Linked DNA regions of Homo sapiens. The protein of the gene in region 1 interacts with the protein of each later gene in a biochemical or structural test. Each region holds a gene or a part of one and is shown on either strand. Other genes may lie near its edges.

Region 1 (7,028 bases):
CATGTTACCTTGATCCCTGGAAGACATTGACCTTCAACTCCCTGAATTTCAGCAGAATCTTTATGAGTTCCAGAAGCATTGCCAGTGCTAAGAGTGAAATTCCAGGGACTAGACTTCACTGGGTGATGGCAGTGTCTTCTCACTCAGCAGGTCCTGGCAGTGCCTCTGGCAATGGCAGCCCTAAGTGGACCAACCAGTGCATGGTGGTACAATTTGGGCTGCAAAAGTGGTGGTTGGTGAGGGGGCAAAATGTAATGGTCAGGATCCAACACAAGATAGAAATAAATAGGTCTTGGTGATAGCTTTGAAAATAACCTGATGGTTATCATATGTTATTAGTTAAGTCAGCCAGCCTCTTTTTGCCCTCTTTTGCCGCTTCATAAAAGTATTCTGAACCAAATGATGGTGGGAAATATTGCATTATTTGAGTTTTCAAGTGACCAGAGCATAATATCAAAGGAGTCATCTTCAAATTAGTTATTCATGGAAACTCTTGCCAATTGAGAGCAAAAGGAAATTATAATTGAAGATTATGGTGATTTGTTTTTGTGTCTAGAGTATTGACTTTCATAAGTGTGCTGAGTAAATGCATAGTAAAAATTTCACAAAATCAGACTGTTAAAAATGGGAGGGGAAGAAAGATCAAAATCTTGTAGAGGAGGGAAGATAATTAAACTACAATCCTAAGTGCTTACTGCTTTAGAGTATTTAATTTGGCTCTGAGCTTCTTAGTAGTAGCCAAGTTAACAGAAAAAAAGGGGGTCTGGAGGTGGCATGCATTAAACTTGTAAGGATGACACATGTAGAGTGCCTGCCATGGTGCTTGCCAACTAGTATATACTCGTATGAAATATCAAATTATATCATGGATAATACTTGAACTTCAATTCTACATAAAGTGAAGTGAGGTTCTTTATATGATCTTGTCTTGTTACCAACTCTGGAATGGAAAAAAATTGCAGAAGACATAATAATGAAAAGTAACCCAGTATGTTTATTGTTGGGGGCCTGAGCTACTATGGCCTATCAGTGGAGATTCTGGTGATGAATCCCAATGCAGAAATAAAGCTCAGGAAACCTAGAGGAATGAGTGGTTACCACACTCTGTAAGCTAATTTTCCCAAATATCTAGTGTGTCAGCCAACTTTTGATTAGAGCAATTTGAGAGGACAGGACAACGAGGTACTTGAAAATGACCCTATGGCCATAAACACCCCTGAATATGTGGCCCCTGATGCTTTGGGCTTTAGTCTATATAGCTCTTATCACCCTGCAGGGCAGTTTGTTTCCATTTCTGTTCCCACCTCTAAGTTGTGATGAGGCACGATGTGTGGGTTTATTCATCTTTGACTCCCCATAGCCTAGCAAAGAGCTTGGTACATGGGCACAGGTGAAACACTGTTGGAAGAATGAATGGAAGGGTAGAAAAGGCAGTGCTTCTCTTTCCCTTCTGGGTTGGTATTAAGTGTCATATTTGGACTTGGATTTGTCCAGAGTGAACGTTTGCTGCCTGCATTGCATCATATGTCCAGATCACAGCTGTCTGTTTTGCTTGAAGGGCTTGTTCTAGTGTCAAAGCTGGTTGAGCAATGGATGGCAAGTTAACTCCTTGTTTTATTTAAAGTCATTCTGATTCTTTGATTTGATTCCTCATTCAGTCTACAAATATTTATGTATCTACTATGTACCTGGCTCTGCTAGCCATTTTTCAGTTCAGCATGCAGCCCAGTGACCTATGAGACAACATATTAATACAAAAGGATTCTGAAATTGTCTCCATTGTGATGAGATGAGTATACCTGTTGGAGTCTCTCATATGGCCCCTAAAAATAGTTATTTTATATCTGAGGAGGTGATTGTTTGTGATTTCTATAGCCCATGTATATTAATGTAAATTCCAGTGAGATTCACTCAAGAATCTCTTGTATCCAAGTAGTAGGGGAGTTGAATATATTTAGACCGGTGAGCTTCTGATTTAAAATGTTCATTCTCCAATTTAAGTTCCCAAACTTGTTAGTCAATTTTGGCATTTAAACAAGTGGGGGGGAGTATCCAAATCACTGAGTCACAAGTAATATATTTCCATATCTTCCTCTCAGGAACCTGGCCAACTGACAGCTAGAATAGTGATCTATGCTCAATGCTAATGTTGTTTGGTCCCTACTGTCCTAATTTCAAAGGACTTTGAAGTCTTTATATACTGTCAGCTCTTGTGCAGTGCTATTTTTATTGAGTTGAGAAACTGAGTTCTGCTGTGAACTTCAGGATCTTTTCCAAATAGCAAATCAGGGGAGTCTGGAATTAGGACCTAGGAACCTTGACTGTCCTGAGAACCATATTGTAGCTTTTCCATCATGACAGTCAGTCCTAACAATCTGATATACTCCCTGGAAAGTGTTTCTGATAGATGTAGATGTGCTTGATAACAGGGCTCATCTCCCTTGCTCAGACACATTAAATTTGCACAGAAGGCAGATCTACCTGTAGCAACCCAGAATACTTGCATTTGAGGCTTTTGCAAGAAGATAATCTGTGATAATCTTGTACTGTCTGCTGGTCAGTGCTTACCAGAAATTAAATGATATTGGTATAGTGGTTTAAATCTTTTTTTTTTCTTATTTTTTTTTTGCGACAGAGTCTTGCTCTGTTGCCAGGCTGGAGTACAGTGGTGCAACCTCGGCTCACTGCAACCTCCACCTCCTAGGTTCAAGGGATTCTTGTGCCTTAGCCGTAATTACAGGCACATGCCACCACACCCAGCTAATTTTTGTAATTTTAGTAGGGACAGGGTTTCACCATGTTGGCCAGGATGGTCTCGATCTCCTGACCTCGTGATCTGCCCACCTCAGCCTCCCAAAGTTCTGGGATTACAGGCATGAACCACCACTGAAATCATTCAGTTGATTTTATTGATTGACCAACATCCATCGATATGTTTAAAATTATTCTAAGAAGCAATATTTTTTATTTAAAAAATCTTTTATGGCAAAATAATTTAAAGGAACTTAACGAAAACCCTCTGTGATATCATCTTACCACTTTATGTGCTAAAAGCAAACAGTTGTTTGCTATTTGTCAGACAGTGCCTTCTGTCTATTAAAGCTATTTTTCCAGTTACTACTCATTCATTTAAGGCAGTGAAGGATCTTGAAGTATATTCTTTTAGCAGTTAAGATATATTGAATTGTATTGAATAGCTTATTTTATTCTAGTTATTTGAAAATTACTGAACAATGGACAATGTGCAAATCATTGACATCTGTCTCAGATCTGCTGAGACAATCGTGATTTAGAGATTAAAAAAAAAAAAAGAAGGCAAATTCATGGTCCAACTCATCACAGTGAAGAAACTTGTGGCTTACATATCTCAACTTACGTTTGTCTTGCTGATCTGCATGTTTTATCCAATTTTTATTTTTCCTAATCCTATTTTAACAAATACTATCTATAGTTTATTTCATATCATATGCACACATGCACAAACACCTCAATACATACATGTCTCTGTGTTCTAAGAGTGGACTGCAGACGAGGCATACACAATTAGGAAAGGATTGGTCTGGACTGAATTGCTCATTCAACTTCCTACTTCCCAAAGAGGGTCTTCAGGGAGTCATGGCTTCTCTTCTGTGATCAAGAATTTAGGCATTTATAAGAAAGTCATGAGTGACAAGTTTATTAAAACAAAAGTGTGGACAAAGGAATGTAGACTGAAAGCAGGCATATCTTCTTTATTAGGGAATATACTTACTTGACTCCTGGAGGCTCAGGAATGTTTGTGATGAGGAATGTTGACAAGATAGTCATGGTGTTAGTAGCATAATATATGATCCTGACATTCAGGAACCTGTTGAGTATTGTAACTCTTGTGACATGTTGTTCCTTGGTTCTCAAGATGGTTCAGATGTACTTCTTCCCTTTGCCATTTGTTTCTCTTGGGATTCTGTTTTTTCTGATTTCATCAATGTCTACACAAAGCAGGTGCTCAGAAAATAATGATTGATGATAGCAATCATAATGTTTCTTGGGCTTGGTCATCTTTTTGCACATTTCTGTCTTATAGTCATAAATGTCTTAACAACTGGCATGTCCATACTTGCAGAATCTGTCTCTGTGACAAGTGTGTGTCATGTTCTCACATACAGTGGAAAAGGCACTGCTTGTCTCTGGCTTCTGCTGTGATTCCCATGCTCAGCTTTTAAATCACAGTGAGAAATGCTACAGTCACCCTGATGTCCCAAGCCACAAACCCTGTCATTGTTTTCAGTCCCTTCTACTTGCTCCTGAATATGTTGACAGATCCTCTTCTTATATTATTACTTTTTGCTTCTTTTACTGCTGTATTTGTTTATTTTACTCTAGGCTCAATTATGTTTGGGAAATCTTGAGTTTAACAACTTGTAAAAGTTTCCAGAGCCTATTTTTATACTAGCATGCATTATAAATGTCCAAGAAAGGGGAGAGCAGGTAGCAAAATTCATTTGATCACCATTTTATTTGTGTGTGTGTGTGTGTGTGTGTGTGCTTGTGTGTCTAAAACCTTAAGTGGCAAAAGTTCAGCACAATAGGTTGTGAGGAACAGTTCACTATATCACACTTTTTAAAAATCAGGCTCATATGTTTTAACCTTTTAATACAGTTCATAAAAAGTGACAAATGACCAGTATCTAGCACCACAACAGAACCTTTTTGCTTTTTCACACACACACACACACAAACCCCTAGCAACTTGTATACAACACTGGCTAATGCTGCCTGTTGTTGAAGTGTTTTGCAAGAATGCAAAAGTCCTGCTAAATTTCTGTCCCTTTGAAAACATTATAATCATAATCTTTCCTTGACTTTCTTTCTGCTGTTTAGGTGTATTAATTTATATAAGCTGGAGAATGGTTTATTTCTGCTGTATTTCTGTTTACTTTTAAAATTTTACCTAGGCTTCACTGCAATTTCTGCTATACTTCTAACATCTGGAGATCTAGAATAAAGTACCTATATCTGAATTGTAGCTGCAACAGGGAATAGAATAAGGTTGTTTAGTCTTGTGTTATTTTTCTTTAAAAAAAAAGGAACCAAGGGAACCTTACACAGAAAATATTTTTTGAAACAAGTTAAGTTATGACCTATGTAGATGATAAACCTATACATTTGTCCTGTAATGTAGCAGTTATAAGGGATTTGAAAAGCATCTCATCTCCTTGAGGACTTGTGAGAAAAAGATCCTAGGCATCTGGCTTATTAATCTATCTCCCACTCTATGGGTTCATAAACATAAGGTATTGCTAAAGTGAAGCCATGCACTAGAATGTGGTGCACATGCATTCATGTATCATTGATTAAGAATATGTGTTTCAATTTATCTTTATTGAAGTTGCCACAAAAATCAAGCCTTATAATAAGTAATTTTTTTCTTCTGGAGTCTGTCCGTTGGTCACAAATGCATGGGACATCTGCCAAGTGCCAGACACGATGGTAAGTGCCAAGACACCATGGTAGAGCATTTAAAAATTCTTGTCGTATGGATGAGATGCTCGGAATCTTCTGGGGCAATCTACAGGAGGTGATTTAGTGTAGAGTAGTGTTTCTCAGCAGAGGTACTATTTGAGTTTTGAGCCTGGTAATTCCTCTACGCTATGGCATTTGCGGCCAGATAATCCTTTGCTGTGGAGGGCTGTCGTATATATTACAGGATGTTTAGCAGCATTGCTGGCTTCTACCCACTAGATGCCAATAGCTCCCCCAACCCTCCAGTTGTGACCATCAAAAATGTCTCCAGATATTATCAGGTGTCTACTGGGAGGCAAAACTGCTCCTATTGAGAACAGCTGGTGTAGACGTTTGGAACTGGGGCCGTGGAGTGGGAAATGTGTGGATTTGTATGCTGGTTTCACCTGGCTTCATTGCATGTGTTCAGTTTCCTCATCTATCATATGTGGAGATTAAATGAAATAATATAGTGCTTGAGTCACAGTCAAGTATTTCTAAATATTAGCTATTTATAGTAGTGGTAGCATTAATACTTTAGCAGACAATTAAAATATTTGTAAGTCCAATGACATAGTTAAGTACAATGTACATTGTGGGAACCCATAGGGGTGGGAGGGTTCTAGGCAGAAATAAATATGATATGCCTATGAAGTGAAAGTAAAAGTATGAAGCATTTGGGAAATTGTAAGGAGCCCAGCCTGACTCATGTGCAAAGGACTATAAATGAGGCCATTGGAGCAGGCAGGAGCCAGATGGCGAGGACCTTCCTGGGCACAATAAGGAAGATTGACTTTGTCTTGATAGCTTGAAGAGACTTAAGAATGTTCAGCAAATCAGATTTTTATTTTAAAAGAGTTCTTTGGGATAGGTCTTGAGTGAGAGACTGGAGGTGATGAGCCCAGTTAGAGACTCTTAGAATAGTCCACTGAGAGATGATGCCTGCTGGAGCTGAGGCAGTTATACATTGCTGTGATGTCTTTGGGAACAGATTTCACTTTCTCCGAGATGTGGCAAAATTTTTCTAATTTAATTCCAATAATGAATATTTTTAGCAAGCTAGCTCTACATTTGGGGGAATTTCAAGTTTAATTTGAAAGCAGATTACATGATAGATTCTCTTTAAAATGTTTTCAAGTGAAGCTTAATTTAAAGACCATCTCACAGCCTATTCATAGTTGAATATTACTTCAAGGGTTTCTCTGCCATTGTATGTACATGCCTATAGCTCCTCTGTCTGACAGGAACGTGTTTCTATATGATTACATTGAAATAGCATTGACATTGTCGTGTTGAGTTTCATTATTTAGTGTGAAGCATTTCAGTATTTAATGTTAAGTGATTTTCTAACTGATGGGGATTTTATTTCTTTAATGATCCAGATTAGAAATGGATGAAGATAATGAATGAATGAATGAATGCAGGAATGGGTGGCATTATGGAAATATCACCTAATTAAGAATAAAAATATTCTGGACAAGTCTCTTGGCTGATCTGAGCTTTAATTTTTAGTCATAAAATGATACTTGTAGGTATATTAGATAATT
Region 2 (7,028 bases), on another chromosome or scaffold:
TTATGCTTGTTAGCTTCCTTCATGGTATATATCATAGATTGTCATCATATATTAATATGTTTGTCTATAGACTGTCTCTCATATTATATTCTACCAATATGAGTGCAGCATCCATATACCATAGACCTAGCATGGTCTTAGATAACTAAGATCAAATAAATACAAAAGTTCAAGGGCAAATAATAACGATAATAATTAGGATTCTCAAAAGCATAAAGGTATGTTTTTAAAACTCTCAGGTATTAATAAAAATCAATACCCAAAATTCTATGTATCCGTAGAAATTTGGTTTACCTTTCTGCAGCCCGAATAACATTATTATATCCTTACAAAAATTTAAAAGTCTTTTGGACACGTGAGAGTGGGTCAAAATATTACATTGACATTTTGTTATTGTTGCTGTTGAGACAGGGCCCGGCTCTGTCATCCAGACTGGAGTGTAGGTGTACAATCTTGGCTCACTGCAATCTCCACCTCCTGGGCTCAAGCTATCCTTCTACCTCAGCTTCTCAAGTAGCTGAGACCACAGATGCACGCCACCAAACCCGGCTAATTTTTGTATTTTTTATAGAGGCAAAGTTTTGCTATGTTGTCCAGGCTGGTCACACACTGACTTTTAATAAATTAAAAGTTAACTTCTAAAGAGAATAAACCCAAAGAAAAGGATGAATTCTTGCTTTCAGGGTTTTAAGAGGAAAAATCTACCTTTATTACCTCCCTGCACCACAAGAAAAGCACATTTGACCTGGATAAGAACATATTCAATATTAAGTCATTACACAAAAATTTACCAAGTGTCTGTTTTAAGTTAAGCACCAGGCTCATCAGGAAAAAAGGGTCAGTAAGCTGTAGCCTCTGGGCCTAATCTGGCCCACTCTGTTTCTGTGCATTCTTATATTTTAATTGATTTTTAAAAATCAAAAGAGTAACAGTAGCCTCTGTAGTGGCTCCTCAGTCTTCTTTGCCAACTCATACTTTTGAATCAACTTTCAAATGTTGGGAGTTTACCAAAGCTTAGAAAGAATCCTTCTCTTCCTATTCTGTACTCTTTTGTTAGATGCTTTCTTCTCAATGCATAACTTCAATTAAATTATCACTTACGCATGAACAATTTCAATATTTCTATCTGTGGCTTCTTTGAAATTTAGGCTTATACATCCAAATTCCCTTTTAACATTTTCATTCAGAATCTCAAACGTTCCTAAAATTCAACATGGCCAGCAGATCTCTGCCCATCCTAATCCCCCCAAGTTCCATCTTCTGCAGGGTTTTCTTTGCTAAATAGCATCTCATCTACCTTAGGTGCCTTAAGTCAGAATAGATAAATCCTCCTTTCTTATTCCTTATATTCAGTGATCACAAAATCCTGTTGATATTGTCTCCTAAATTTCCTTTCATCTGTTCAATTCTCTCCAAATCAACTGTTACCACTCTACTCCAAGCAAACATCATCTCTGGCTTAGAATACTACAATAGCTTCATGACTGATTTTTTTCTCCAATCATATCTTCTACCTTTCAATTTACTCAGCACACTAAAACTGATCTTTCCCTGCTTAAAACATTGCAGTGGCCTTCCATTATTCTTAGAGTCGTAGGAAGAAAACCATTGCTTCTGATGCAATGTTAAGCCAAAGGAACAGAGGATTTTAAGAAAATTGGGCAATTATACTAAAAGTTTCTGAGATGCCAAATAGGATAAGGATTAAAAATGTACACTGAAAACAGTGCTGTGAAGATCACTGATGGCTTTAATAAGAGCAGTGTGGTAGGGGAAAGAAGTTGCTGAGGAGTGGGTATGAAGCAAGTAGACAACTCTTTTTAAACTTTGACTGTCAAGGGGAAGAGAACGACTGGCAGGAAGCTACAGGAATAAATGGAATCAAAGAAGGGATCTTTCCTTTTTCTTTGTTTAAGGTTAGATTAACCAGAACATATGTAAATACTCAAGTGAGCCAGTTCAGGGAAGAAACTGGTAATAAAGGAACAAAAGGGATACACAATGAGAAGGAGGCAGGAAATGGAAACCAGAGAGACAGGTGGAGGGACTCAACCTTAAAGAGAGCTGGAGACCTATCTCCTTCCATTGCAACACTGGAGGAGAGATTATGTGCATTTTCAGGTAAGCATACAACTTTGGGGTTAGGAGGCTGAGGTAATTCTCATTTAATGGGTTTTATTTTCTTTATGAAAAATCACATGACATCATCTGCTAAAAGTAAGAGCAAAAATATGGAAAGATTTGAGGATAATCAAAGATTGGAACAGTCTTCGTGAAGGAGTAAACTGACCACAGAAGATATTAGAGTTGCCAGGATGTGTTGATGGCATGGGGAGACAGGTAGTGGTTATGAATTTATAGTGGTACTAATCTGTACTCGAGATTTTTCTTGTCACACCAAGCACAGATAAAGAGAAAGCATACTGAGTTCATCCAGGGTTGGGGTGGCATCAGGAAGGTGCAACAAAAAAATCAAAGAAGAGCAAAAGAATTTAAGGTATTGATAAGAGTTATTAAAATGAAACAGAGTCTAAACTGGATAGGAAGAAAATGAGAGAATAAAAGGCTAAAGTATAGGGATAAAATAAAGGGATTATTGGTCTGTAGGGCCAGATAAAGTTAACAGTTACAGTAGGAACAGTTAAACAACTCAGCTAGAAATACAGGAACTGGCATTTAGAAAACAGGATGCGTGAAACAGTTTCGTAGATGCAGCAATTTCATCTAATAATAAGTACTACAAAAGTAGATAGGTGCAACAGAACAGAGAATAAGATCACTGGGGGAAAAGATCTCTGTAATAAAGATGAGGTGACAAAGAGATTATCCATACGGATATTGAAATCACATGAGGGAAGATGGTGAGCTAGATGGTGAACTAAGCGCCAAGTTCAGTGACAGGAAGTTGGTAGATGGTGTTAACAAGCTGCAATTAAGTGATATGCCAGAAAGTTATCTTGAAGCCTACTTTCTTCTGCAGTCTATTTTCTTTCCTATTATTCTACTAAAACTTCATTCTCAAAGATTACCAAATATGTTCTCACAGTTAAATTTGTCTTTATCTTCATTCCCTAGGTACCTCTCTGTTGCAACTAATTATCCCTCCATATTGATCCTCTTACCTATCATAGTTTCCACTGTGTACAACCTCTGTTTCTCTTGACTTTCCTAATGCTCCCTTACTCATTTTCTGCATTCTAAGCATTCTCCTTTAACTATCCCACATTTCTTGACCCTGTTTTTCTCCTTCAAGACATTCTTCCTTAAAGACTGCAACAATTCGCCAGGTGCGGTGGCTCACGCCTGTAATCCCAGCACTTTGGGAGGCCGAGGCAGGTGGATCACGAGGTCAGGAGATCGAGACCATCCTGGCTAACACAGTGAAACCCCATCTCTACTAAAAATACAAAAAAAAAAAAAAAAAAAAAATTAGCCGGGCGTGGTAGCAAGCGCCTGTAGTCCCAGCTACTCAGGAGGCTGAGGTAGGACAATGGAGTGAGGAGGCGGCGGAGCTTGCAGTGAGCTGAGATCGCGCCACTGCACTCCAGCCTGGGCGACAAAGCAAGACTCAGTCTCAAAAAAAAAAAAAAAAAAAAAAGACTGCAACAATTCTCACGGCTTCAACTATTTTCAACTATCTTCTTTGGAATAATGACTCCCATAGTTATATCCTTTTATTCCTGTCCCCTACTGGAATTGACATCAGTTCCATATTTGTGATGTCTTACCAAACATTTTAATCCCATCACTTTAAATCTACGAAGTTAAAATTACTCTCTATTGAAAAGTAGTAGTCTATCCTACCATTCAATCATATGGCAGCGCCAATATTTTCCACATCATATAGGTTTCAAATCACCTAGTCATTGCTGATTTGTCTTTATCATCATTCTTATTTACTTTAAATTCATCCACAGAACCTTGCATATGTCCTTACAAAAGGCAAACATTTAATAAATGCATACTGAATCATCAAGTCTATACGGTTTTCTTTTTAACCCATTTCATCCATCTTTTCTTTCTTCATCATTGTGACTTCCACCATCTACATGAGATCCTCATCAGATGTGTCTAGCACTCATCATTCTCATCCCTACAGTATTTTGCTGATGTTGTTTTTCTGATTGCAGCCACTATTGACTATTATGTATCTCTGGCAGACTAAAATTGTTTTCATCCTGTTATCTCTTGTTCAAAGTTTTAGTATTCATCATTGCCAATTCAGCTGGACGCGAAAATCATCTACAATCTAGCTCCAACCAATCTCTACAACAATACCACCCACAACTTCTCAATGTGAAATCTCTGCTCTTACCAGAGAGATCTCTTTGCTATTCTGGAATATGCCATGTATATTACATTATTTACTCAAAGTATTATTATTTTTCTTCTCCAACAATATAAAATTAGTTTCCAATTCTATCTTTTCCATAAAATATCTGCCAGTCACTCCAGCTTAATTTCTTCCAACTTGGAATCCCGAATGTACTCCCATTGGTGCTATTAATGTTGGAAATTATATAATGCTTTCTTTATTGACTTTAATCTATTAGCTAATTTTTTAAAATGAGTATTGTTTCATTCAATAAGACTGAAACTCCTTAAGGTGAGAGGCTTTATAATTTATTTTGCAAATATCCTTCCAATACCAAGCATAGTATTTTATATGATGTCTATATTTCTGCTTTATAAAAAAAACTATACTGTGTGAGCTATTTTCCAATCTGATCACTAAATTTTTCCCTCTCTTTTCCTCTATTTCACCTCCAAAAAATAAAAAAAAGGAAGAAAAATTAAGCTTCTTCCATGTCAGTGTATCAGTGAGAGTCACATAATCTACCACAGACCATAAATTCCTGCAGGGTAGATTATCCTATTCATATCTATATACTCCGCATCTAATTCAGAAACTGGAAATTGCACACAATAATGTTAGCTGAATTGAATCCTACAAGGTATAATTTTTTTAAAAATCCATGATTTCTTGGCAACAAAATGTAATGAGTTCTAAAAATTAATCTGCAGAATGCTAAGAAGTAATAACTCAGGATGAAATTCGTACTCCTTCTATCAATATACAGTTTTTCATATCTAGAAGGAGCCTTCCATTGAAGAGATTAAATAATTAAAGTCCTACAAAGATTCTGTTTTCTGAAAGATCATATTCTGCGGGCTAATGTCAGAACTAAAACTAGAACCAGATTCTGCATCCCATTTTCTAGTCTGGTCACCTAATTACTTTAAAGTAATTACTTTAAACCAGCTGGTGTTCAAACTGAGAAACTACATTTGAAAAATAATACAGTTTAACAGTTTAAAAGAGAAAAGAGGAACATATTAGAAAGATTACAGGCTACTAATTCTGGTTCTTATAATTACAAGTTGACTAGAAAATGTACTTATCCTCTTTGAATCTGTTTCTTCATTTGTTAAATAGGGGAAAATAAAGCTTACTAGGAGAAGTAAATGAAATAACTGCCTGGGAGCATAACAGTTATCATCTTCCATTAAAATATGCAATTGGTCTCTGAGAATAAGGTAAGATAAGGTCTTTTAAAAATGTAATGAGAAATATGGCCGGGTGCAGTGGCTCATGCTTGTAATCCCAGCACCTTGGGAGGCTGAGGTGGGCGGATCATGAGGTCAAGAGATCGAGACCATCCTGGCCAACATGGTGAAACCCCGTCTCTACTAAAAATACAAAAATTAGCCGGGCGTGGTGGCACACGCCTGTAGTCCCAGCTACTTGGGAGGCTGAGGCAGGAGAATCACTTGAACCCAGGAGGTCGAGGTTGCAGCGAGCCACTGCACTCCACCTGGCGACAGAGCGAGACTCCATCTCAAAAAAAAAAAAAAAAAAAAAAGAATGAGAAATTTAATAAAAAGGCACATTAAACATATTGGTAATGTTATATAACTTCTGACATTTTTTACTATTCTAATATTGATATGAGGCATTCATATATTAGAAATAGACTAATAAAAATGTTGAAGGCTGATGAACATTTTATAGATATTTTTGCAAAATATATTTTTTTCAACTGCTAGGAAATCCTTTTCTTACTATCTATGACATAACATTATATACATATAGAACATAATATATCTAAGTACATAACATAGTTATCTATCCAATAATATGTACCATGTATTGCGTACATGATAGATATACCAGTTGTTACTAACTCTAATCCTAATAAACAGTCAAGAAAGTTATGAACTGCCATTCCCATTTTATACTTGAGAAAATGGAGATTTGGAAACATTTAATAACTTACTTAGAATTACACACTCCCCTTGAGAAAGCTTATCTACTTTCTATATTTACTTTAGCATAACCCCATTATAACAGGGTCCAAAAAATTCAAATGTATAAACTAAGAGATTAATGACAGATTTCATTTAGACTCTATAGTATGTGTGTCTGTCTCTCCCTCACACACACACAGACACACTCAAATCACAAAATAAAACACTGTACACAACAAAATGCATACTGAACTGACAATGAAGCATCATCATTCCAGTCAAACCAAACCCCCTGCTGAGAACACTTAAGTTTAGCTCCCCATTTGAATACAAATGGTTATGGGAAGATAGCTGCCAATGGCCAATCACATGATGTCTTAATTCTTATTATTGTAGGATATATAATCACAGGCTTTCATTATAGTACCTCTAAGGTGATGCTTCCCAAATCTCTAGTCTCAGCTCTGACTCAGCCTGAGTTTCATATTCAAATATCTGACTGCTTTCTTGATGTGTTCCTCATCTCAGTTAATTTACCAATATCCACCCAGAAAACTGGCATCATAATTGATCCCCCTTTCTTCCTGCCAATTCATTAACGAAGTCGGTCTATTTTCCCTTCTATATTTCTTTGAATCCAACCCCTACTGTACTGTACCAGCTAGTTCAGGCCCTCAGAATTTCTGAAAAGACAACTGAAATAGGATCCTTATATGTAGATCACTCACCCTCAAATCCAGACTGCCAACGTTATCTAAAATGTACACCTGTGTCAGTCT
Region 3 (7,028 bases), on another chromosome or scaffold:
TTAGACTATCAGTGGTGATCTAGCCACTGGAATTATCAGTTTAGCACTCAGTGCCCCTTATAGCAAAACCATAAACTTACTTGCTTTAAACTTTCTATCGAAAGCAAAACTTCACTAAGACTGGACAATTTATAATTCAGGCAAGTTACCATGCTGGGTGGACCATGGCTCACCTCTGCACAATGCTGTGGTAGCCAGGTGCTATGTCATCTGTAACAGGCTGCAGGAAGACATTGGCATACCTGTCCAAAAGGAATAAGGTGCAATTACTGACATTCTCCAGAAGTGCAGGGAGGGAACTTACTCTAAGTAACTAAAGGTAGTAAGAACTAATACCAGCAGTTCCACAGAAGCCTACTCAGACTTTTTTCCAGTCACCAACAATGAAGAGTAGGAGAAAATGAACCTACTGACTGGTAAAGCCCACTCACCTATGATTAGCTGCAGCTCTCCATACAAGCATGATGGCTTTCTTCCAAATTTTCTGTGCCTGAATAGCTTCCTGATCCTCACTACAGACAGAGCTGAAACAGAGATACAGCAATTCCACTAGGCACAAGTTAAAAAATAAAAATTATAATTCTCTTTTCTTTTTGAGACAGGGTCTCACTCTGTCCCCCAGGCTGGAGTGCAGTGGCATGATCATGTTCATTGCACCCTCAACCTCCCAGACTCAATCCTCTCACCTCAGCCTCCCAAGTAGCTGGGACTATAGGTGCATACCACCATGCCCAGCTAATTTTTTAATTTTTTTGTAGAGATAGGGTCTCACTGTGTTGCCCAGGCTGGTCTCGAACTCCTGGGTTCCAGCGATCCTCCTGCCTTAGCCTCCCAAAGTGCTGGGATTACAGGTGTGAGCCACTATGCCCAGCCCTAATTATTTCTTGTCAGCTGTTTATTCCAGGTCAAAAAAGGGAAACACTAAAGAAAAGATCAGGCCAGGCATGGTGGCTCATGCCTCTAATTCTACTGCTTTGGGAGGTCAAGGCAAGAAGACTGCTTGAGGTCAGGAGTTCAAGACCAGACTGGACCACATAGATCCTGTCCCTTAAAAAAATTTTTTTAAAATAAAAATTTAAAAATAAAGAAAAAGGCCAGGCATGGTGTCTCACGCCTGTAATCTCAGCACTTTGGGAGGCCGAGGCAGGTGGAACGCTTGAGCTCAGGAGTTTGAGACCAGCCTGGGCAATGTAGCAAAACTTGGTTTCTACTAAAAAAATTTTTTTTAATTAGCAGGGTGTGGTGGCACAGGCTGGTAGTCCCAGCTACTAAGGAGGCTGAGGTGGAAGGATTGCTTGGGCCTGAGAAGTGGAGGTTGCAGTGAGCTGAGATCGCACCACTGCCCTCCAGCATGGGTGAGTGAGAACAAGAAAAAAGAGAAGGAAAGGAAAGGAAAGGAAAGGGAAAAGAAAAGAAAAGAGAAAAGACAGGAAGGAAGGAAGGAAGGAAAAGATCCTCTCCTCACCTTCACTGCCTTGGCCTCAAAGAAAGAATCTCAGATACTCACAACTGTGAAGAAGCAGGGCTGCTGGGGATGGAGTCTGCCAGTGTGTGTGACTGCAGTGTAGCATTGTGTATGCTGAAGCCATCATCACTCTCGCTCACAGGAGGTTCATTATCCATTTCTGACAAGTAGCCTTCTCCTTGATCCTCTTCCTTAGGCTCCTCTAGGCTGGCCGCTTCACTGACACCATCTTCCTCCTCATCCTCACCTGGGGCATCCTTAGATACAGTATGCTCCAGTTAACAAATGCAAGCAAAGCTATCCAGCAAAGCATCATTAAACATGATCTGTCTTTTGGGTTAGAATTAGTTCTAGAAATGACCTCACGCTGTTTCCTGACTCAGCTGTCTATCACTTATACTACCATCTACTTACAGACACTGCGTTAAGTAATTTAGAACCTGGACAAAGAATAATACCCAGGATCTTTTAAAAAGAAAGAAAAAAAAAAGCTACTTACTTAAGACTAAGCTAAGAGGCGTTCCTTCTTTCCCCTTGCTCGAGAGTAACTCTGACCCTGGGTACAAAGTTATCAAAAATAATTTTTATTTTGTGTCTCATTTGATGGAGCAAGCTCACATCACATTCTTTAAGCCTCTGTTACTGCTGCTTTAATAATTCTAAAAAGAAAACTCTGGATGATTCTCTTTGGATAGTCTAATTAATAAACTTGATTCCTGTATGTTCTCCTTGGCTCAGGTATCCTTATTCACTACAAATCACTCTAAGTGTATCAAGCCTTCTTAAGGACTGTGTGATATTCACATGCTGTTTCATATGGGAGGCACCTGTTGCTATAGTACTCCCATTATGCCTGTCTACTGCAGCTTTTCCCCATGCAACTCCATACCAGTCTCTTATCAGAGAATAAAGATGTGACTTTACTGAAATTCATTAAAAAGTAGTGCTATAGGGAAATCTAATCACATGGCAAGAGGAATAAAGAAAAGTCTGAAATACCTTTATCTGGCTTCCAAAAATAGTCCCTGATTCTTCTTTCAATGAGTCTGCAGAGGAGAGAAAGACTACCTGAAGATTTTTCCACCTTAGCCTTCCCCTTCCTATGGACCATAATCCCCTGCAGCTCTCCTTTACATGCTGACCTGTTCTACCTCCTCTACTTGCCCACAACCCACAACCCCTCAGAAGCCAAAGCAAATGATTTCAAGTCAGTGAAAGAGGACTTTATTTACCTGACATTTCAAACTTGTGCTGAGTCTCTGCCTCTAAAGGATCTTCAATGGGATTTGAGCCATGTGATGGAGACAACATGCTTTCAGGGGATGCCTGAAAACCAGAAAAGAAAAAACACCCTAAGTACTGATAAATCGCTATAGCTCACACAACTTTATTCTTCAGTGATAATGAGACCATAGAAGAAATTCTAAGTCCTACTCATGTAATGTGACTCCAATGGTCACCTTAACAGGAATAAGTATATATAACACTAATCACAGCCTATGGGCTTTGGACACATCAAACATGTCAGAACTCAGGAATGCAACTGGAAAACCAAAAAGCCTAAGCTGTCACTTCTTATCTAAGGTATAAACCTCCATCTCCCCAGCCCCGATCTTTCTTAAGTACCTCTGTCTTCACATTTGTAAGTGGAGTCTCATCGCCTTTCCCAATGGCAACATCTGCTTCAACAATCTCTCCAGCTGCAGTACTTCCCAGTTCCTCATCTAAGTCCTGACTCCTGAGTTCTGGTGGCTCCATACTTGTGGCTGGAACAACTCCAGCTACTATTTCGGCTCCTGAAATGACTGGCTCTGGTTCTGCAGGTTCCACCTTGATCTCTGCACTGGGCTCCCTGATGTCCACCAGTTCATGTATTCCCTTGTTTTCCGTTTCCTCAAAGTCCAGTCTCTCTTGCTTGACCGTCATTTCTGGTGCAGGGAGAGGTACTGGCTTGTCCCGCTCCTGCTGGATAGGATGCTCCCAGGGGCCAGGCAGGGACTGAGGATCATCATTTTCTTCACAAAATGACAGTGCTGCTTCCACTGCTGCCACATCCAGCACTTCAGGATGATCATCTACCTGTCCCACAAAACACAAGACTATTGAGGTCACAGAAAGAAGCCCAAGTCCTTCAATTTTTGTTAGCACCAAATGTGATGGCTTGAATCTGCAGCTTTTCGCTCCATTTTTTCCATGTAGTGGAGGCAAACAATGAAGAGGCACCTGTCCTGTGCAAACCAGTAACATGGGTAGACCTGAGGAGATGACTAGTATGTTAGCACCAAAGGGCTACAAAGATGGAGATGGGCAGAAGTAGGAGAGTTGTTTAAGTAATTCTTACTGTAAGAAGCAAAGCAGCCGAGTATGGTGGCTCATGCCTGTAATCTCAGCACTTTGGGAGGCCGAGGTGGGTGGATCACTTGAGGCCAGGAGTTTGAGACCAGCCTGGCCAACATGGTAAAACTCATCTCTACTAAAAATACAAAAAATTAGTGAGGCGTGGTGGCATGTGCCTGTAGTCCCAGCTACTCAGGAGGCTGAGGCACAAGAATTACTTGAGGCTGGGAGGCAGAGGTAACAGTAAGCCAAGATCGTGCCACTGCACTTCAGCCTGGATGAAAGAGCAAGACTCTGTCTCCAAAAAAAAAAAAAAAAAAGCAGCAGCAGCACCAAAGTGAGGCTGAAAAGAGAAGCCTATGTAGGACCCATGAGATTCTCTGGGGCTTCGCTGAATAGTTACCTTGTCCTCAATGATGGCAATGATGTCTCCAACAGTCTCAAAATCCAGCTCTTCACCTGTGTAAGACACAGCAATATCCATCTTCTCAGCCAGATCTAATTCTTCCTTCCCATCTATGCTGGGAGCCTTTGATCCAACAGGAGCCTCTGCTACCCCTGATCGAAAACACTCTTCTTTGATAGAATTGATGATCATGGATATTTCACTGCTGTCCATGGAAACAGTCACAGTATGTGGATCCCCCACAGCCTCCATGGGAACACAGTTGTCGGGTTGACTCACTGAGTAACAGAAAGAGAAAAGCATCTCAGAAGCTTATTGGGTACAAAGCGACCACCTTGAGATCACATAAGCGCTACAGACAGATGTCAAATATCCAAACACTTAAGGTCAGAAAGAGTCATCAACATGTGCCTATGTTTTCTTCTCCCCAGTTTTATCTAGAAAGGTGAGAACATATTTTCAAGCCTGCTCATATCTGTATACTTAGCCTCTTCCTGCAATACATAAATGCCCACCCACCTCTTCTCACATCTATTTCTAAGGATATTTATTTCTAAGGATAAAGATGGCACATGTCTATGTAGAACAGAGAAGAAGCATCTGAATCGGAGCTGATGCTCTTGGTCATTTTTCTCTAACTAAAGCTCAAAATGAAATTTTAGATCTAGTGGCTGCTCAGGGACGCACCTGGAGCTACACTTTCAGTAGTGGAGACAGCCGGAGCAGAGGATGGTGCTGGCAGCGCAGGCATCATGACAATGGTAGCTTGGGACACAGACTCTACAGGGGGTGGCACAAGTTTAACTGGAGGCTCACTGGCAACAGTAGTGAAGGAAGCAAGAGGTGTGGTGAACTGTGTAGGACCAGCTTCTAAAAGCCGGGAAAGAGTGGGAGCACCTAACATATAAAGAGGTACACAAAATGAAGTAAGAAGAAAGCACATAAATAAGAAGCAATAGCTACTTGAAGACTCAACTAAGAAAATTCTTATGGTCTCAAAGGATGAGAGCAACTCCTGCATTGAATAAGTTCATCATCTATATCCTTACTCTAACCTTACTTAAGATCTTCCTCCAAGTTAGGAATGAACCAAAGCACTAGAACACACAACATATATAAAAAATGGGTGGTAAGGCTAGGTGCAGTGGCTCACGCCTGTAATGCTAGCACTTTGGGAGGCCGAGGCAGGTGGGTCACTTGAGGTCAAGAGTTTGAGACCAGCCTGGGCAACATAGCGAAACCCTGCCTCTACTAAAAATACAAAAAAAAAAAAAAAAAAAAAAAAAAAATTAGCTAGGCGTGGTGGTGGGTGCTGTAATCCCAGCTATTCAGGAGGCTGAGGCAGGAGAACTGCTTGAACGCAGGAGGTGGAGATTGCAGTGAGCCAAGATTGTGCCACCACACTCCAGCTTGGGCGACAGAGCAAGGCTCTGTCTCAAAAAAAACAACAACAACAACAACAAAGGGTGGTAATTTTTCCTCAGAGGAAAATTAATCACCAAGAAACGAAAAACTGGTATGAATAAATCTGTCGCTTCTGCTGAAGTTCAGCATATTGTAAACCACCCAAGTTCAACACCATTCAAATACCAATAAGGTTTGTATGGTATTCTATGGAGCTTTTTTTATTTCCCTGCTTTATACTTTCTACCTCATTAAATTCTCATCACATCCTTGTGAAGTATATATGTTACAATAAAAAAGGAAACTGAGGCTCAAAAGCTAAGTTACCTATCCAAGGTCACAAAACCAATGTGTGGCAGGCCTGAGATTCAAGCCCAATTCTCTGGTTCCAAATCTTATTCCACTATTCTATAATCTTAGGTATCTCTAGCACCTTGATTTTGCAAGCCCTAAGAAAGCAGTTCAATATTACTCTCAATATCCATGCTGTGGTCAATCAGGGCTATCACTATCTTGAAGATAGATGGCTTTATAATATGGAGACTACATTGTTTACCAGGTAAAGTAGCTCCAAAAAAAAGTTAGAAAAAGTTGGGCTTTAAATCTAGCACTGACAACTGCTTAGTAACAGTGAAACTGAGGTCAGTCAATGTCAAGTTCAACACCTTTGAGGTTGATAAAGGAAAAGTGGTAACTTACCTGATGCAGCAGGGGAGGCTGCAACAGTATTGGGTGTTTGCTGTATCTCCCCACCATGTATCATGGGAAGGACCCCGCCTACCTCCAGGAGGACACCTGTACTGTTCAGGTGGCCAGAAGCCACAGCCATTTCACTCTCATTGACCTACCAGGGAAGAATAGAGGTGAAGGCTACACTCAAGCTTTCCTTCACTACCATTTCCCAACAAAGCTCCAGCAGTTGATCAAACTTCATGAAAACTAATAGCTAATATCCACAGAGAATAATTTAAGACCCAAGGGAAACTCTAAACTATAATGTTCAAAACTTATTTGACAAGAGTTCTCTGGAGAAGAGAACCAAAATAATTGTGATTCAGATACCTCAGGACCCATGGGTACTATCAACTTACTGTATTTTTAAAAAATTAACATTTAATTAGGAGATCTTTTCCTCTTTTGAACTTTTATTCCCCATGTCACATTTTAGGTCCCAGGCACTCCCTTCCAAGTACTAAATCACCACAGCTCTCAAACACCCACAGAAGTCTCCATACCAGTCTGGGGCTAGTAGGCAGGAGGCTGCCCTTCTTCAAGAGCTCTGACAGCAGAGGGGAGGGGGGTGGAGTTGCTTTCTGTCCAAGCATCTTTTTCTGGGGTGAATCATCTGTTACTGGGGTCATGGGGGCTTCTAAGGGTGCAGAGCCTGGAGGAAGGGTGTCAGGAATCCCAGGAAAC
Region 4 (7,028 bases), on another chromosome or scaffold:
TGAACACTTTACAGACATTGCCTCAACTATTCTTCACTAAAAGCCTTCAAAGCATATGCTACTATCGTCCCCATTTCCTAGATAGAAAAAGAAGGCCAAAAGAAATTCTCTGCCAAGCTCCCAGGGCTTTGCCCAAGCAGAACCCCATCCTAGAATTCACAGCCCTCTCAGTCACTGAAGCAAACAATTAGGGCAAATGTTTGTTTTCTTACCTAAAACACCAAACAGTCATCACAGGCCTTTGGGGACAGTTAATCAATGGCTTTATCCCACCATTTGTGAAAGTCTCTCAGGTCTCGTCTCTGGTCTCCTACTCCAGATCTGGGTAGCAATTCGGTCTCTATCCTGAGGAAAGAGCAGGGTGGGAGCCCAAGGGTCCAGATGCCACCAAGAGCCTGTCAACCCTGTGCCCAGGCCAGCTGGGTGACCTCAGGCCAGGCCCCTCCTCTCTGAGCTCTGTGAACCCAGCTGCTGACCCCTTGGCTCCCTCTCCCTCACTGGGTAGTCCTGAGCATCTCATGAGAGAACTCGTGGTCAGCTGCAAGGAGGACCTTTGGGATTTAGGAATGACAAGAGTAGGAAGAAAATGCAGTCTGTCCAGGGGTGGTGGTAGACCTTGCCCCAGGGTCCCACGGCCATCCAAAGCCCAGCCACTCAGGGCAATGGTGTCTCTCAGAGGACTACCCACCCTGGCCCTCCCCAAGAGCTAAGGCCCACCGCACCTCGCAAGACCTGACACTGGAAATGAACTTGCCAGGGAGTCAGGGGCCTGGGCTTCCTCCAGCCAAGCAGCTGGACCTCAGCTTCCTCTCTTCTGGAAATGGCAAGGTGTACCTGTATCTCCAAGGGCCCCCTGCCCCAAGCCTGGAAGGAGAGGGAGCTGCTCACAGTCAAGGTTCAAATCCCAGGTAAGCCGCTCACTAGCTTCAAGACCCTGAGCAACTGACCTAACCTCCCTGCACCTCAGTTTCATCACCTACAAAATGGGGAAAGCCAGTCTCACAGTTATTGGGAGAAATCCATGCAATAGCACTCAGAAGTCTCTTCACAGATACACAACGAAATAGTCACAGATGAAATGACGTCTTGTACATGGAGATGGAATAAGAGTGACTGCAAGTCTTTAACAGTGGACGCTGGGTGATGGAGGGATGGGGATTCACCATACTGTTCTCTCTACTGTCTACTTCTGTATGAGTTGACATTTTCCATAGTCAAATGTTTAAAATACAAAGTTCTTTCAGAGAACCTGACATTGAAACCTATAAAACGCTCTTCTAGGCAACCACACTGCTAGTCCAGGATAAAAATAATTTCTTGTCCTCCCAGAGCTTTCAATCCAGTTGTAGGAATAAAAGCACACTCAGATACCATGGGATAGTAAGTGGCACAAGCCACGTGGGTGGTGGAAGCAGAAGAAGTTAGCTTCAAAGGCTTTCTAGAGGCTGGACGCGGTGGTTCATGCCTGCAATCCCAGCATTTTGGGAGGCCGAGGCGAGCGGATCACGAGGTCAGGAGTTCAAGACCAGCCTGGCCAATATGGTGAAACCCCATCTCTACTAAAAATATAAAAATTAGCCAGGTGTGGTAGCACATGCCTGTAGTCTCAGCTACTTGGGAGGCTGAGGCAGAAGAATCGCTTGAACCCGGGAGGTTGCAGTGAGCCGAGATTGCACCACTGCACTCCAACCTGGGCGACAGAGTGAGACGCCATCTCAAAAAAAAAAAAATGCTTTCCAGAGAGGGCAGGCTTTCAAGAGGGGGCTTAAAGTTCAGGTAGGCTATGAATACATTAAAATGGCAGGGATGGTGGCGGGGAGAGGACATTCCAGTTCATTCCACCAGACTTGTATTCCATCCCTTCTCAGGAACACTCAGACTGAAGATATAAAACAAGAAGCAGTGTCTGCCCTGAAGAGGCTCATAGTCTAGCATATTCATTCACTCAATGAGGATTGATTAAATGTCTGTTATGTTCCAGGCACGGATCTATTCACTGTGGTGAAAACAAAAGGTGGGTGAAATGAACGAAAATCCTTGCCTTTGTGGAGCTTAACGTCCAGGAGTGATTTCCTAATCATTCAATGAGGACTGATTAAATGTCTGTTATATTCCAGGCACTGATCTATTCATTATGGTGAAAAACAAGGTGGATGAAATAAACGAAAATTCTTGCCTTTGTGGAGCTTAACGTCCAGGAGTGATGTCCTAACACTTAATATGATCTATAGATGAAGAGATATATCTATTATTTGGTGCTTATTCTGTGCCAGGCATGTGTTACATGCTTTAAATCCATGTTGTCATTCGATTTTCACTGACTCTTCACAACAATCTTTTTTTTGAGACAGAGTCTCACTCTGTCACCCAAGCTGGAGTGTAGTAGTGTGATCCTGGCTCACTGCAACCTTCACCTCCCCAGTTCAAGTGATTCTCCTGCCTCAGCCTCCCAAGTAGCTGGGAATACAGGCATGCGCCACCATGCCCGGCTAATTTTTGTATTTTTAGTAGAGACGCGGTTTCATCATGTTGGCCAGGCTGGTCTCGAACTCCTGACCTCAGGTGATCCACCCACCTCAGCCTCCCAAAGCGCTGGGATTACAGGCGTAAGCCACTGTGCCCGGCCTCTTCACAACAATCTTAATCATCATATCTTCTCACTTCAGGAAACAGAAGCTCAGAAAGGTTATGTGACCCGCCAAAGGCCTCGAAGCTGGCAAATCGCAGAACCAAGACTCAAACCCAGTAAGGGGATTCCAAGGTCAGTGCTCTGCTGGCCCTGCGTACTGCCACACAGAAGATGGAACAGCTGGCTTGGAGGTGAGGGAGAGGGCATCGCCAAAACAGTGGCTGGTGAGCAGGGGCTCGCAGGATGAATCATGGAAATGGAGAAGGAAGACACAGAAAAGGGCAGCCTGAGTCTAAGCCTCCAGGAGGAAAATTCAGGGTTTTCCTGGGGAGGTACAGGATCCCAAAGTAAAAGCAGACAGCTCAAGACAAAGTCAAGGGCCTAACTCTCCAACTTAAAAGTACCCGAAGGCCTTCGGAAATCAGGTTTAAGTTTAGGCTTTAATTTTAAAATACCGGAGAGCTAAGCTATCAAGCCATGAAAGTCATGGAGGAACCTTAAATTCCTATCAGCAAGTGAAAAAAAAGCCAATCTGAAAACACTACATACTGCGTGATTCCAACTATATGACATTCTGGAAAAGGCAAAACTGTACAAACGGTAAAAAGATCAGTGGTTGTCAGGAGTTGGGGGACAGAAGAAATGAAAAGGTAGAGCAGATTTCCAGGGCAGTGAGACTATTCTGTGTGATGTTACCATGGTAGATACCTGTCATTACAGATTTGTCCAAACCCACGGAGTGAACCCTAATGTAAACTACAGACTCTGGGGTGGCAATGATGTGTCAATGTAGGTTCATCAATTATAACAAATCTACAACTCTGGTGGGGAATATTAATAATGGGGGAGGCTATGCATGTTGGGGGCAAGGGTATATGGCAAATCTCTGTACCTTCCTTTCAATTTTGCTGTGAACCTGAAATTGTTCTAAAAAAATAAAGTCTTAAAAGAAAAAAAAATGTACTGAGGAGCCATGGGAGATGTGTGAGCAAGAGAGTGATGTCAGATATGCACTCTAAGAGGACTGATCTGCCATCTGGGCTAAGGGCAAATGGAAGAAGACAAAGTCGGGTGCAGCAAAGATCTCTTTGGTAGTAACTGCAGGAATCTAGTTACAAACAGACAAAAACCTAGATCAGAAGGGGAGAAGAACAGAAAGATCAATCCAATCGATTCTGCATCAGCTGAGTGTCAATGGGATGGATATGAGGCACTCCGACTACCTTGTAGGAGGACAGATAGAAACTGACCCTGATCATTTTCTTCCAAATGACTTTATTTGGGTACCCTTCACTCTCTAATAAGAATTATGCTTCTCTTTTTTACGCAAAAAAAAAAAAAGATTGCATGCATGAAAATTAGCTCCATACTTAATCCTGTCCTTCTAAAGTGCTTCAAAGAGAGAATTATTCCAACTTTCATGAGTAGCAGGTTAATGCTCATTTTAGATATACTGTATTATTTCACTCCCAATCGAGAGGGCCTATTATCCCCATTTCAAGGATTGAAAAACAGGCGTAGAGAAGCAGAGGGACTTGTTCTGCATTCTTTCTTTTTTGTTTTTTTGGAGATGGAGTCTCACTCTGTTGCCTAGGCTGGAGTGCAGTGGTGCAATCTCAGCTCACTGCAACCTCCGCCTCCTGGGTTCAAGCAATTCTCCGGGTTCAAGCAATTCTCTGGCCTCAGCCTCCTGAGTAGCTGGGATTACAGGCACACACCACCACGCCCGGCTAATTTTTGTATTTTTAGTAGAGACGGGGTTTCACCACGTTGGTCAGGCTGATCTCGAACTCCTGGCCTCGTGATCTGCCCGCCTTGGCCTCCCAAAGTGCTGGTATTACAGGCGTGAGCCGCCGCACCCGGCCTCTGCATTCTCTCTATACAATCTATGTGCCTTCATTTGCTCAAGGTGCTAGAAAAACACTGATGAACAAAAACTGAGAGTAGCCCCTGTCTTCAAGGAGCTTAGAGTCAAATAGTCTGGGAACACTGCCCACTAATGCTGGCTCTTCTACTTACTCAAAGGTAATTAGTCTTCCACAAGTCAGTGAGTTCTCTGAAACTGTAAGATCTGTACAGCTGTGCAACAGCACCTACATTTTGCACAATATCTATGAGAATGAAATGTAGTAGTGCAAACAGAAGGCTCAGAAAACTGCATGGGGTATAGGGGATACTCAGTAAACGTCACTGATGATGACGATGAAGGAGAAGGCAAGGATCAACACTGCAATATTCTTGTTAGGCATTTCCAAGCCTGAGCCCCCTTTGCAAGACTGCTTCTCACTCGAGCCAGTCTTTCTTCTATTATTCCAGAGGAAGAAGGAAGAGGGTGACTCACGTGGCATAGTGGAACTTCTGCCTGGCCTGCACGAGCTGCTAAGAGGAGGGCCCTAAGGTAAAGAGGAAATATGAGCCCGTGGGGCACAGCTGCTGGGCCATTGCCCTTCCTGGGTTTCACAGGCATCCTGATCATTAGCACCAGCCAGGGAATCCCAATGAAAGTGGAGCCCAGGTCTCTGGTGAACATGACCCCTTCTGGCTCAGGTGAAGAAGTTACTCTCCCTAAGTCTCACACAGATAAAGAATGGGCAAATGCACCCAGTGAAGGCTATGCTTCAATCTTCTCCCACACACTATACATTTGTCCAAATCTACAAACTGATTTGAAAAAGAAGTTGGCCCTGGCTTCAAGGGGTGTGTGGAGCCATTTTCCCAGTTCTCCATGTGGCAGGGGGCCCTTCTGGGTGCTCAGTCCCAGCTTTAGAACAACGAGGAGACAAGATACCAATTGCAAAATGGGCCAAGTTCAGAAACACAGAACCACAAGTCACCCATGATCATATGGGGAAGAAGTTTAGCATCACAAGTAATCAAATAAATGCACATTAAAACAATAAGGGTAACAGAATTTATTGACGAACAGACTGGTAAAAATGAAAAACAATGAAAATATCAACAGTTATCTGGGTATAGGAAACCAGGTGTTCCCAGACCATGCCAGTGCACAAATAAGTACAATCTTTCTAGAAGAGAATCCAGGAATGAGTTTGATGGAGTAATTTCACTTCTAGGAACTTAAAGGAAGAAACAAAGACATACATAAAAAGATATTCGTTTTAGCATTGCTTACAATAGCAAAATAAAAAAATTAAACAACGTAAATGAGTAACGATAAAGGATTAATTAAATACATCTCGGTTCAATCTTCAACAAAACATTATATAATCATTAAGATACTAAGTAGAATATTTACTGATGTGGAAAGATGTTCACAGCATATTGTTTGGAAGAGGAAAAAAAAAAACAAGTTACAGAACAGTGCAATTCCAAGTTACAAATCAGTATATTCAGGATAACTCCTTTTTTTTTTTTTTTTTTTTTTTTGAGAATGAGTTTCGCTCTTTTGTCCAGGCTAGAGTGAAGTGGCGCGATCTCGGCTCACTGCAACCTCCGCCTCCCGGGTTCAAGCGATTCTCCTGCCTCAGCCTCCCAAGTAGCTGGGATTACAGGTGTGTGTCACCACGCCCAGCTAATTTTTGTATTTTTAGTAGAGACAGGATTTCACCATGTTGGCCAGGCTGGTCCGGAACTCCTGACCTCAGGTGATTCACCCGCCTCGGCCTCCCAAAGTGCTAGGATTACAGGGGTGAGCCACCGTGCCCGGCGACTCCATTTTTTAAAAATAAGATGTGATCTATATGAACAGGAAATAAACAGTCTGGAATATACATGACAATTAAGTGGTTATCTTTGGGTCATGTTACATATTTCTCATTTTTTTCTTTATGCTTGGCAGTATTTTCTAACAATTCTATAATTAAATATTTTTAAATAAGTTGTTAGAACTGATGATTTCTAACATTCCCGCTGCCAACTCTGACATTTTGTGCATCTATGACTGATGCCCTAAGCAACTTCAAATAGCCCATATTTAGTGTGGACTTGCTGTGTGGCCTTTGGGGTCTAAAATTTTGCCCACAGCTGCAGCCCTCTGCATTCCTCTCTCCCACACTCGCTGCCCAGCTGTCTCCCCTGCTAGCCTGGGAGCTTCTGCTTGGCAGGACCCAGCTGCACCCCTGTCTGTAATCCATGTGCCTAGCCAAGAGCTAAGCAAAGGAACACAGCTCAGCATACTGACAGGTGCCTTGCAGGCACAATGATAAAAGGTACAACCCTAGTGCTAGAATCTTACTGGACACCAGACTCACACAAAGTGCTTGGTTGTATCACACAGATGCAGAAAACCAAAGGAGAGAAAGCAGGGCAAGCTGGGCTGGGAGAGCCTAGTAGAGGAGAAGGCCATGCAGGACGGGTGAGTGAGGGTACTCTGGGCCAGGGGCATAGCCTGAACAAAGGTGAAGCCACCCACAGTCCTTTGGGATCCATGCCTCAAAGC

The links.
Region 2: the proteins of THRB (region 1) and LRIF1 form a complex in vitro, tested with the Homo sapiens proteins (one study listed by BioGRID).
Region 3: the proteins of THRB (region 1) and BRD8 form a complex in vitro, tested with the Homo sapiens proteins (one study listed by BioGRID).
Region 4: the proteins of THRB (region 1) and PPARGC1B form a complex in vitro, tested with the Homo sapiens proteins (one study listed by BioGRID).

The regions. Positions count from the first base shown.
Region 1 is NC_000003.12:24,484,841-24,491,868, reverse strand, and holds part of THRB (thyroid hormone receptor beta), read left to right. Parts: intron 1-7,028.
Region 2 is NC_000001.11:110,953,895-110,960,922, forward strand, and holds part of LRIF1 (ligand-dependent nuclear receptor-interacting factor 1), read right to left. Parts: intron 1-7,028. UniProt on the Homo sapiens protein: Together with SMCHD1, involved in chromosome X inactivation in females by promoting the compaction of heterochromatin.
Region 3 is NC_000005.10:138,161,623-138,168,650, forward strand, and holds part of BRD8 (bromodomain-containing protein 8), read right to left. Parts: coding exon of another isoform or gene 6,848-7,028; intron 6,457-6,847; coding exon 6,312-6,456; intron 5,106-6,311; coding exon 4,896-5,105; intron 4,487-4,895; coding exon 4,206-4,486; intron 3,545-4,205; coding exon 3,092-3,544; intron 2,792-3,091; coding exon 2,698-2,791; intron 2,512-2,697; coding exon 2,465-2,511; intron 1,723-2,464; coding exon 1,508-1,722; intron 525-1,507; coding exon 432-524; intron 243-431; coding exon 174-242; intron 1-173. UniProt on the Homo sapiens protein: May act as a coactivator during transcriptional activation by hormone-activated nuclear receptors (NR). Isoform 2 stimulates transcriptional activation by AR/DHTR, ESR1/NR3A1, RXRA/NR2B1 and THRB/ERBA2.
Region 4 is NC_000005.10:149,733,310-149,740,337, reverse strand, and holds part of PPARGC1B (peroxisome proliferator-activated receptor gamma coactivator 1-beta), read right to left. Parts: intron 1-7,028. UniProt on the Homo sapiens protein: Plays a role of stimulator of transcription factors and nuclear receptors activities. Activates transcriptional activity of estrogen receptor alpha, nuclear respiratory factor 1 (NRF1) and glucocorticoid receptor in the presence of glucocorticoids.